2 separate regions of the Homo sapiens genome follow, and region 2 is linked to region 1. The links come from fine-mapping of genetic effects on gene expression. Tissue or cell type: monocytes. Region 1 holds a variant in brackets; the other region holds the start of a gene. All regions are shown on one strand. Distances are from middle to middle.

Evidence for each region. PIP is the estimated chance that this variant, and not a neighbour inherited with it, causes the effect.
Region 2: JPT2 starts here. The variant in region 1 is fine-mapped to the expression of JPT2 in monocytes (CEDAR, PIP 0.91).

The regions. Positions count from the first base shown.
Region 1 is chr16:2,379,190-2,384,315 of GRCh38, forward strand. It overlaps the pseudogene ABCA17P. Among named protein-coding and RNA genes, the nearest start is that of ABCA3, 41 kb to the left of the region's middle. The variant T/C (reference allele first, on the strand shown) is at 2,050.
Region 2 is chr16:1,675,323-1,680,474 of GRCh38, forward strand. JPT2 (Jupiter microtubule associated homolog 2) reads left to right here and starts at 2,957. Exons shown (of 5, transcript NM_144570.3): 1 at 2,957-3,034. The coding sequence starts at 2,991. It overlaps CRAMP1 (cramped chromatin regulator 1), which reads left to right. Exons shown (of 21, transcript NM_020825.4): 21 at 1-2,586. RefSeq lists silencers at 2,584-2,983, 3,014-3,373 and an enhancer at 2,814-3,449.

The DNA of each region.
Region 1 (5,126 bases):
AAAAGTAGGGAGGATATCTCCTATCTCTAATACTCCCCACACATCCTGGTACATTGTCATGCATAGAACATACATACTCCTTGGATGCTGCTGATTTCACTGACTGTGGCAAAGAAGTAGTATAAGGACAGTGTGTGTGAGAACAAGTGAACAAAGCAGAAAGTATCATCGGGCCTTCGTGCTGCTGTGTGCTCTGACTGAAGATAACTTCAGTATCTTGTCTTCCCCTTGGTTCTAGGTCTTATTCCCCCTACAAGTGGATGTGCATATGTCAATGGATATGAAATTTCACAAGAGATATTTCACATTAGGAAGAGCCTGGGCTGGTGCCCCAACATGATGTCTTATCTGATAAGTTAACAGTAGCAGAACATCTTTCTTTCTATGGTCAGGTGAGTCGATGGATAACAGGGATTTGTTTCCTCTGTATCCACTCTTGGGAATGATGAGATAGACTGCAGCTCTCTGATTCAACTCAGGGTAGGTCTTTTTTTTTTTTTTTTTTGAGATGGAGTCTTGCTCTGTCACCAGGCTGGAGTGCAGTGGCGTGATCTCAGCTCACTGCAACCTCCTGGGAGTGTCTTTAAAATGAAAACTTGTGTTTCTCTATTCTCAACACTTCTGACACCAAATGTATGTGGAGTTTTCCCACACCAACCAATTCTCCAACTCTGCGGATAGCAACTGAGTGTCCTACAATTCAGTTCTTAATGCTGACTATCTAAAGTTAATGCAGACTCCACAGGTTTAAGGCTCAGTCTCACAAGATTGCCCCCATCCCTGACTTCAGATGTCAGTTGCAAGTTCCAGGTTGTTACCTGTACTTCTGACCAACTGGCTGTTGTTTGGGGGTTCCGACAACCTCCTCCTTAGGTTTGATAATTTGTTATAAAAGCTCACAAAACCCTTTATTATAGAGGGTATTATGAAGGATACACATGAACAACCAGATAAAGAGGTACACAGGACAAGGTGTGTGAAAAGCAGTGCAGAACTTCCATGCCCTGTCCTAGTATACCACCTTGGCAGCACCTCAGTGTATTCACCAACCCGGTAACTCTTCAGAGCCCATAGTTTAGATATTTTTAGGCAGGCTACATCATGTGGTCATGACCAGTTATTAGCACAGCCTCCAATCCCTCTCCCACTCCCTGGAGGATTGGGGGTGAGGCTGAAATGTCCAAGCTTTTTTTTTTTTTTGAGACGGAGTCTTTCTCTGTTGCCCAGGCTGAAGTGCAATGGCGTGATCTTGGCTCCTCCACCTCCCAGGTTCAAGCGATTCTCCTGACTCAGCCTCCTGAGTAGCTGGGATTACAGGTGCCCACCACCAGGCCCAGCTAATTTTTTAAATTTTATTTTTAGTAGAGATGAGGTTTCACCATGTTGGCCAGGCTGGTCACGAACTCCTGACCTCAAGAGATCCACCGGCCTCAGCCTCTGAAAGTGCTGGGATTACAGGCACGAGCCACCACGCCTGGTCTGAAATTTCCAAGCTTCTAACCATGGCTTGGTCTTTCTGGTGACTAGCTCACATCCTGAAGCAGTCCAGGAGCCCACCAAAAGTTGCCTCCCTAGAACAAAAAGATGCTCCTATCACTCAGGAAATTCCAAGGGAGTTGGGAATTCTGTGTAAGAAACCAAATCAAATATCAAATCGAAGACCAAATATTAGAACAAAAGATGCTTCTAGCAGCTTTGTCACTCAGGAAATTACAAGGGCTTTAGGAGCTCAGTGCCAGGAACCAGGGCAGAGACCAAATATATATTTTTTTATTATGTCAGTCTTGAAACCTCTTCTGGACACTATTCCTTAAACATTCAGGAAGGGTGAAGGGCATGGCGTTTAAGTCAAGATTTCTGAGTTAAAGGATTTCTACAAATGACTGTATTTGAATTTTTATATATTTTTTACTTTTTATTGAGACAAAATTCACATAACGTGAAATTCATCATTTTACTCATTTTACAATATTCAATTCAGTAGTTTTTAGTATACTCACAGTGTTTTGTTGTTTTGTTGTTGTTGTTTTTTTCAGAGTCTCACTCTGT[T/C]GCCCAGGCTGGAATGCAGTAGCACCATCTCAGCTCGCTGCAGCCTCCACCTCCTGGGTTCAAGCGATTCTCGTGCCTCAGCCTCCCAAGTAGCTGGGATTACGTGCACCTGCAACCATGCCTAGCTAATTTGTGTGTGTGTGTGCTTTTTTTTTTTGAGACGGAGTCGCACTCTGTCACCCAGGCTGCAGTGCAGTGGCGCAATCTTGGCTCACTGCAACCTCTGCCTCCCGGGTTCAAGTGATTCTCCTGCCTCAGCCTCTTGAGTAGCTGGGACTACAGGCGCATGCCACCACACCCAGCATTTTTGTATTTTTAGTAGACACAGGGTTTCACCATGTTGGCCAGGATGGTCTCAATCTCCTGATCTCATGATCCACCCGCCTCGGCTTCCCAAAGTGCTGGGCCTGGCCTAATTTTTATATTGTTAGTAGAGATGGGGTTTCGCCATGTTGGCCAGGCTTGTCTCAAACTCCTGACCTCAAGTGATCCACCCACCTCAGCCTCCCAAAGTGCTAGGATTACAGGTATGAGCCACCGTGCCCAGCCTGTATACTCACAATGCCATGTAACCATCACCACTATCTTATTGCAGAACATTTTCATTGCCCACAAAATAAACTTATACACATTATCAGTGACTTCCCATTGCTCCCTTCCCCTAGTCCCTGGCAACCACTAATCTGCTTTCTGTTTCTATGGGTTTGCCTATCCTGGATATTTCATATAAATGGAGTCATACAATATGTGGCTTTTTATGTCTGGCTTATTTCACTTAACATAATGTTTTCAAGGTTTATCCATATTTTAGTATATATTTGTACTTCACTCCTTTTAATAGCTGCATAATATCCATTCTACTCACCTGAATGTTTGCCCATTCCTCAGCTGATGGACATCGGGTTGCTTTCACCCTTTGGCTATTGTGAATAGTGCTGCTATGAACATTAGTGTTCACGTTTTTGTTTGAACACCTATTTTCAGTTATTTTGGGTAAATACCTATAAGTGAAATTAATGGGTCAGATGGTAACTCTATGTTTAACTTTTTTGTTTGTTTGTTTGTTTTACTTTTTGAGAAATTGCCGTTAGTGTGAAGTAGTACCTTGTGGTTTTGATTTGCATTTCTCTGTTGACTAATAATGTTGAGCATCTCTTCATGTGCTTATTGGCTATTTGTATACTTCTTTGGAGAGATATCTATTCCAGTCCTTTGCCTGTTTTTTTGGTTGGGTTCTTTATCTTTTTGTAGTTGAGCTGTAAGAGTTTTTTTTGTTTTTGTTTTCTTTCCATTTTTTTTTTTTTGAGATGAAGTCTCACTCTGTCACCCAGGCTGGAGTGCAATGGTGCGATCTTGGCTCACTGCATCCTCTGCCTCCCAGGTTCAAGCGATTCTCCTGCCTTAGCCTCCTCAGCAGCTGGGATTACAGACGTGCACCACCACGCCTGACTGATTTTTTTTTTTTTTTTTTTTTTTTGTATTTTTAGTAGAAACAGGGTTTCACCATGTTGGCCAGGCTGGTTTCAAACTCCTGACCTCAGGCGATCCACCAGCCTCAGCCTCCCAAAGTGCTGGGATTACAGATGTGAGCCACTGTGCCCAGCTTTTTTTTTTTTTTTTTTTGAGACAGCCTCTCACCTCTCACTTTGTTGCCCAGGCTGGAGTGCAGTGACAGGATCTCACCTCACTGCAATCTCTGCCTCCCAGGCTCAAGTGATCATCCTGCCTCAGCCTCGCAAGTAGCTGGGACCACAGGTACAGGCCAATTGCCTGGCTAATTTTCGTATTTTTTTGTAAAAATGGGGTTTTACCATGTTGCCCAGGCTGGTCTCAAACTCCTGAGTTCAAATGATCCTCTCGCCTTCGTCTTTCAGAGTGCTAAGTGAGATTATAGTCGTGAGCCACCGCACCCAGCCTGTAAAAAGTTTTTAAGTGTATATTCTAGATCCTAGGCCCTTGTTAGTTATATGATTTGCAAATATTTTCTCCTACTCTGTGGATTGTCTTTTCCCTTTATTGATAGTATTTTTAAATTTAAAACAAAAGTTTTAAATTTTGATGAAATCTAATTTATCTTTTTTTTATTTGTTACTTACGCTTTTGCTATTATATTTTAAAAATTATCGTCTAGGATTTATACTTATATTTCTTTTTAAGATTTCATAGCTTTGGTTCTTAGATTTAGATCTTTGGTCCATTATGAGTACATTTTTGTATATGGTGTGAGGTATGGGTCTACATTTATTCTTTTTCATATAGATATTAAGTTGTCTCAGCACTATTTGTTGAAAAGACTATTCCTTCCCCATTGAATGGTCATGGCATCCTTGTAAAAAGTCTATTTACCATAGATATATGGGATTGTTTCTAGACTCCCAATTCTATTCCATTGTTCCATATGTCGGTTGTTATGCCAGTACCACAATGTCTCAATGACTGTAACTTTCTAGGAAGTTTTGAAATTAGGAAATATGAGTCCTCCAACTTTGTTCTTCTTTTTAAGATTGTTTTGGCTATTCTGAGTCCCTTGCATTTCTATATGAATTTTTAGGATCAGCTTGCCTATTTTTGCAAAAAAAAAAAATAATAATAATAATAATAAGGTATTGGAATTTTAGTAGGGATTACATTGAATCTCTAGATTGCTTTGTGTTTATTTTTATTTTTTTGAGATGGAGTCTTGCTCTGTTGCCTAGGCTGGAGTGCAAAGGCTCAATCTCAGCTCACTGCAACCACTGCCTCCTGGGTTCAAGCGATTCTCCTGCCTCTGACTCCCGAGTAGCTGGGATTACAGGTGTGTGCCACCATGCCTGGCTAATTTTTTTGTATTTTTAGTAGAGACAGGGTTTCACCATGTTGGCCAGGCTGATCTCGACCTCCTGACCTCAGGTGATCCACCCACTTCGGCCTCCCAAAATGCTGGGATTACAGGTATGAGCCACTGCACCCAGCCTCTAGATTGCTTTGGATAGTAATGTCATATTAACAAAATTAAGTGTTCCAATCTATGAACACAAAAGGTATTTCCATTTATTTAGGTCTTCTTTAACTTCTTTCAGCCATGTTTTACAGTTTTC
Region 2 (5,152 bases), 700 kb before region 1:
AGCTGCTACAGAGGTGTTGGGCAGGCCATGCCTGTGCCGCCATCTCTCCCTTCCTGCCTCATTTCATCCCCCGCAGCAGCCGGGATTGATTGTGCTTTCCTAACCCCCTTGGACCTACTCTCCCTCCTCCCCACCATTCCTCTTCCCCCACATGTGTGGCACGCTGCAGCCCTCAAGGCCAGCCCTGGCCCCTCCACTGCTTCTCTCCCCATCCACAATGGAGAAGGTGAAAAGAGGAGGGAAAGGCCTTTGGTGTGGACAAGCATGTGGACGCCCTCCGTCCTGCAGTCTTGCCAGCCCACCACAGCCACTGTAGACCACAGGCAGGCCGTGTACTGCACCACTGGGAGGACGTGGAGAGGACAGTGAACTTCCAGGCAAGAGCTTCCTTCTTTTGTCTCACGAGTTTTTCTTAGAGCTCTTGCCTGAGCTGGCTTCCCTCCTTCAGACATTGACATGAGATCTTAAGCAAACAGTCCCAAACCTCTTAGGGGTGAAAAAAGAAACATGCCACTTGATTAGGAGAGAGACAGCAGTGTTTGAACTACAGCATCTTTACACTAGCTTGTGTTTTGTGCTACGTATACCAGCTTCCAAAATTAGCATCTCATTGAGCCAGAGAAGACAAGGAGATCTCCCTCTGGGCATCTGGCTTTGCTGCGTCTCTAGAGGGTTAGGATACCAGGCCGAGTTCAGGCCACTGCTAGCTTTCTCATACTCCCACAGGCTAGACCAGAGATGCCAAGTCCCAACAGCACTGAGCTGTGTGCACTGTGCCAGGGACAGGAGGGTTTGTGAACTGCCTGTCAGGGTACCTGTTAGCCCCTGACAACTCAGTGGGGTGAAGTTTTGGAGGTCAGAGTCTGCTTTCGTAGGCTCTTTAGACAGCACCTACCACTTGGTTCTCCAGCGTAGACTCCTGGGAGCAGCCAACTGCAGCCATTGCCATCCAGTGGGGAGATGGGTTAGGGAGGAGGACGGGCTGACTCCTCTCCTGTAATAAAGCTGACAAGAGTTCTAGAGGATTCTGCTTCTCTAGTAACTAGACAGGTGATACGCATTTGCTTGCCACATTAAGGGAAAATGGTGTCATTTGTTGCAGAAAAACAATGGATACATTTTCTTCTGGCCTAAATGAATATTTATGTGCAAACATAGGCAACTGTTAAAGGCTGGAATTTTCAAAAGATCCAAACAGAGACTTCCTGCATCTTCTGCCTTTCCAACAGAAGCGGTGATCGTCTAAGTATGAGCCTGTGGCTTCCTTTGTGCATTTGAGCATGCTGTAATTAAGATGAGATCAGTTTCTTAGAAAAAGCTTTCCTGAATCCCTCTGACGTTGCCTGGGATCTTTCTGTTGATTCGTCTTTTCTGGAGATTGGGACAGAGCATCTGTGGTCCAGGGAAGTTAGTCCTCTGGCCTCAATTCTGTTGTGGATGTGCAGTGATAAGCGGGCATTGCGTGCCTCGGGGGATGCCTAGTTCGTGGCTTCCTGGCTGTTTTGTCCTTCTGTGTCTTGTAGCTGTAGGGTGCCAGCTCAGGGAGTGGGGTGTTGGCGGCGTTTCCGCGGTTGGCCTCCTTGCTTTGCCGCACCTCCAGGTTCTGGGCATGAGAGGCCGTGGCCTCATTTCTGGTGGATAACCTTTTTAGTTTAATAGCATCTTTAATTAGATCACAGCATTGAATTCAAAATTTCTTCTGCAAAGAAAGTTGTGGGGCATAAGACACCGGGAATGAGGGAGGAGGAAGACAGTTGTGTTTTCTCTTTAAACCTTGAGCTCTAGCCGATGCATTTGTCAGGAAATACAGCACTTTGTCTTAAGAAAACAAGGAAGGAGGCCGGGCGCAGTGGCTCACGCCTGTAATCCCAGCACTTTGGGAGGCCGAGGCGGGCGGATCACCTGAGGTGGGGAGTATGAGACCACCCTGACTAACATGGAGAGACCCTGTCTCTACTAAAAGTACAGAATTAGCCGGGCGTGGTGGCGCATGCCCATAATCCCAGCTACTGAGGAGACTTGAGGTAGGAGAATCACTTGAACCTCAGCGGCGGAGGTTGCAGTGAGTCGAGATCGCGCCAGTGCACTCCAGCCTGGGCAAGAAGAGCGAAACTGGGTCTCAAGTTAAAAAAAGAAAGCAAGGAAAGAGTAATTTACAACGAAGGAAAAAAACCCACAGCACACCCTTCGCGGCTGTCAGCGCTCTCCTGATGTCACAGTGGCTGCGTGTCCTTGGGGTGGGTGAGGTGTGGGGAGCCCAGCCCCTGGCCCTGCCTCCCGCGCCCCGCTCCCCTTCTCTCTCTTACTCGGTTAAGCCATAGCGAGGCCTCCGCTCGTTTCAGATATGAATTTGTTTTATAGATTATAAATATGCATATACAGTGTATGTATAAAGCAGAATGCCTGCCTTTCCTGGTTATTTTTTGTACCATATTGTAAATTATATTATTTATTCTTTACCAATTTTGGGAATAAAAGGTGTTTTGGTTATTTAATATAATAAGAGCTGTTAAACTTCTGTTTAAATTTCCAGTTCAACTTGTAAATGTTTTTATTGTGCATAAATACATACTAATGTTGATCTAAGGACTGTCGTTTGTGCCTGTTCTTCAGGGCCGCGCGCCCATGCCCGCAGTCCCTGGTCGGGCAGGTGCGGCCCAGGTGCGGCCCCGCGGTCGGCTCGCGGGCTCCCGCAGACCGGGCTTCCTCCCGAGGGCGCGGCCGTCCCAGGGCCCGCCCGGCCCGCCGCCCAATGCGAGCTCCCACCTCCGCGAGCGGCGTCGCCTTCCCCAATCGGCTGCGGGCGCGGCGCCGACCGTTCAAAGCCTAAGTCGTCGGGGGTGGGCGTGAGGGGCGGTGGCCGCGCTGAGATAGGCTGCGGAGGGATGATTGGCGTCTTGGCGCCCAATGGGCGCTGGCGGGCGGCCTTGAGTACCTGCGCTGGGCGGGCGGGAACGGCGCGCGGCGAGCTGAGGGTGGCGGCGGTCGACATGTTCCAGGTCCCGGATAGCGAGGGCGGCCGCGCCGGCTCCAGGTGCGGCGCGGGGCACACGGGAGGCGGGCGGATAGCGCGACCACGTGGCGGGAGCGGGCCAGCCCAGGGCGTCCACCAGCCGTGTGGGGTTGGGGTGGGGTTGGGGGGCAGGGCGACCTCACAGAGGCCCTCGGGGCCGCCGCCCGCCTTTCTGCGCCGCCGCCAGACCGAGGCCCGAAGCCCGAGGGGCCGCTCGCTGAGGCCCGGGCTGTGGAGAGCTGCCCGCGACCGAGGCCGAGGGCGGGGAGGGGCGCCCGGGCTCTGGGAACAAAGCTGTGTGGAGGGCGGGCTGCGCTCCCTCGCGCCTGGGCGCCCGCGTTCCGTGTGGTGCGTTCCGTGGGGGGTTTCCTGGGGGCGGGGTGTGCCCGTGGGTGCGGCCCATTTTGTCTGTGGGATGCGTGTCCATGTTCCCGGGGGGGTGTCCCTAAGGGGTGTGCGGCGATGTGTTCGTGGGGGGTGTCTGGCCATGCCCCCGCTCCTGTGCGTGTGGCCGTGTGCCCGTGTCCCTGGTGTGTGTGTGGCCTGTGCCCTGCCCATGGCCGCGCTTCCACTAGTTCATGTGAGTCCACTTCCTTTGGAAAGTGCCAGGGCGTCTGGGGAAGAGTCAGTTCTATCTCCTGGGAAGGTGGATGGCGCTCCTGGGCTTCGCTGTAGGAAGAAGTGGATTGGGACGAAGATATCCTGACTCAGCTTTAATAGCCAGGAACACTGAGCACACTTTTCTTATGTTTTTGAACTTTTAAAGCACTCTTTGGGTATTGGGACTCGCATGAATTAGAGGGACAGAGCTTACAAGGTCTTTCGTGCCACTTGAGCAGTAAACTTGCATTGTGAAGTTTGGGTCTTCAGATGCCTGAGGTTTTCTGTATGATGAGCCCCTCTGTGGCACAGCCTCGCCAGAGAAGTAGAAGAGAATATGTGTGCCATGACTGTTAAGACCAATACTATATTGCTTCTCAGCCTTTTGGCTATGATCAAGTGAAGACAAATACTATATTGAATAAATACTAAGTAAAAGAATTGCTCCAACTTGCTAAAAATAAAAACCCTTTAGATTGGCCGGGCGTGGTGGCTCACACCTGTAATCACGGCACTTTGGGAGGCTGAGGTGGGCGAGTCACGTGAGGTCAAGAGTTCGAGACCAGCCTGGCCAACATGGTGAAACCCCCGTCTCTACTAAAAATGCAAAAATTAGCCAGGCGTGGTGGTGTGTGCCTGTAGTCCCAGCTACTTGGAGAGGCTGAGACAGGAGAATCACTTGAACCCAGAGGCAGAGGTGGCAGCGAGCCAAGATAATGCCACTGCACTCCAGCCTGTACGACAGAGCAAGACTCCGTCTCAAAAAAAAAAAAAACCCTTTAGATTTGAGGGAGTTAGGTCAGTATTCAGTAATACTTGTAACCAAATAATTACCCGTGGCAGGGTGCAGTGACTCAACGGCTGTAATCCCGGCACTTGGGGAGGCCGAGGCAGGTGGACCACGAGATCAGGAGATCGAGACCATCCTGGCCAACACGGTGAAACCCCGTCTCTACTAAAAATACGAAAAAATTAGCCGGGTGTGGGGTGGCGGGTGCCTGTAGTCCCAGTTCCTTGAGAGGCTGAGGCAGGAGAATGGTGTGAACCCGGGAGGCGGAGCTTGCAGTGAGCCGAGATCACACCACTGCACTCCAGCCTGGATGACAGAGCAAGACTCCGTCTCAAAGAAACAGCCCTTCATCCATGGAACAGTGATTATTATGCCTAGGTCTGCACCGATGTGGGACCAGGAGTTTAAACTAGTGCTCAGAGCGAATCCGGTTTCTGGTTCCTGGTGGCCAGAGTTTTGCACCACCCACATCAGTGGGGGGAGGGACTGCATCCCCAGCCCTGTCCCAGTTGTGTGCATTTAGTACGTTTCCTTTTTGTTTGTGCTGCCTGGCACTGGCTGCCCGGTAAATGATGGTGTTTATTATCACCCTGAGCGACGCCGATGTTTTTATATTGACTTTCACGCTCCAGAAGTTAGCTGCACAGGGCCGCACTAAAGTCATACTCACACTACCCTGGGGGACTGGTTTCTGGACAAGGTGTTGAGAAAGGGAGAAAACTCTTCCTTTTAGGATGGTGAGGAAGGAA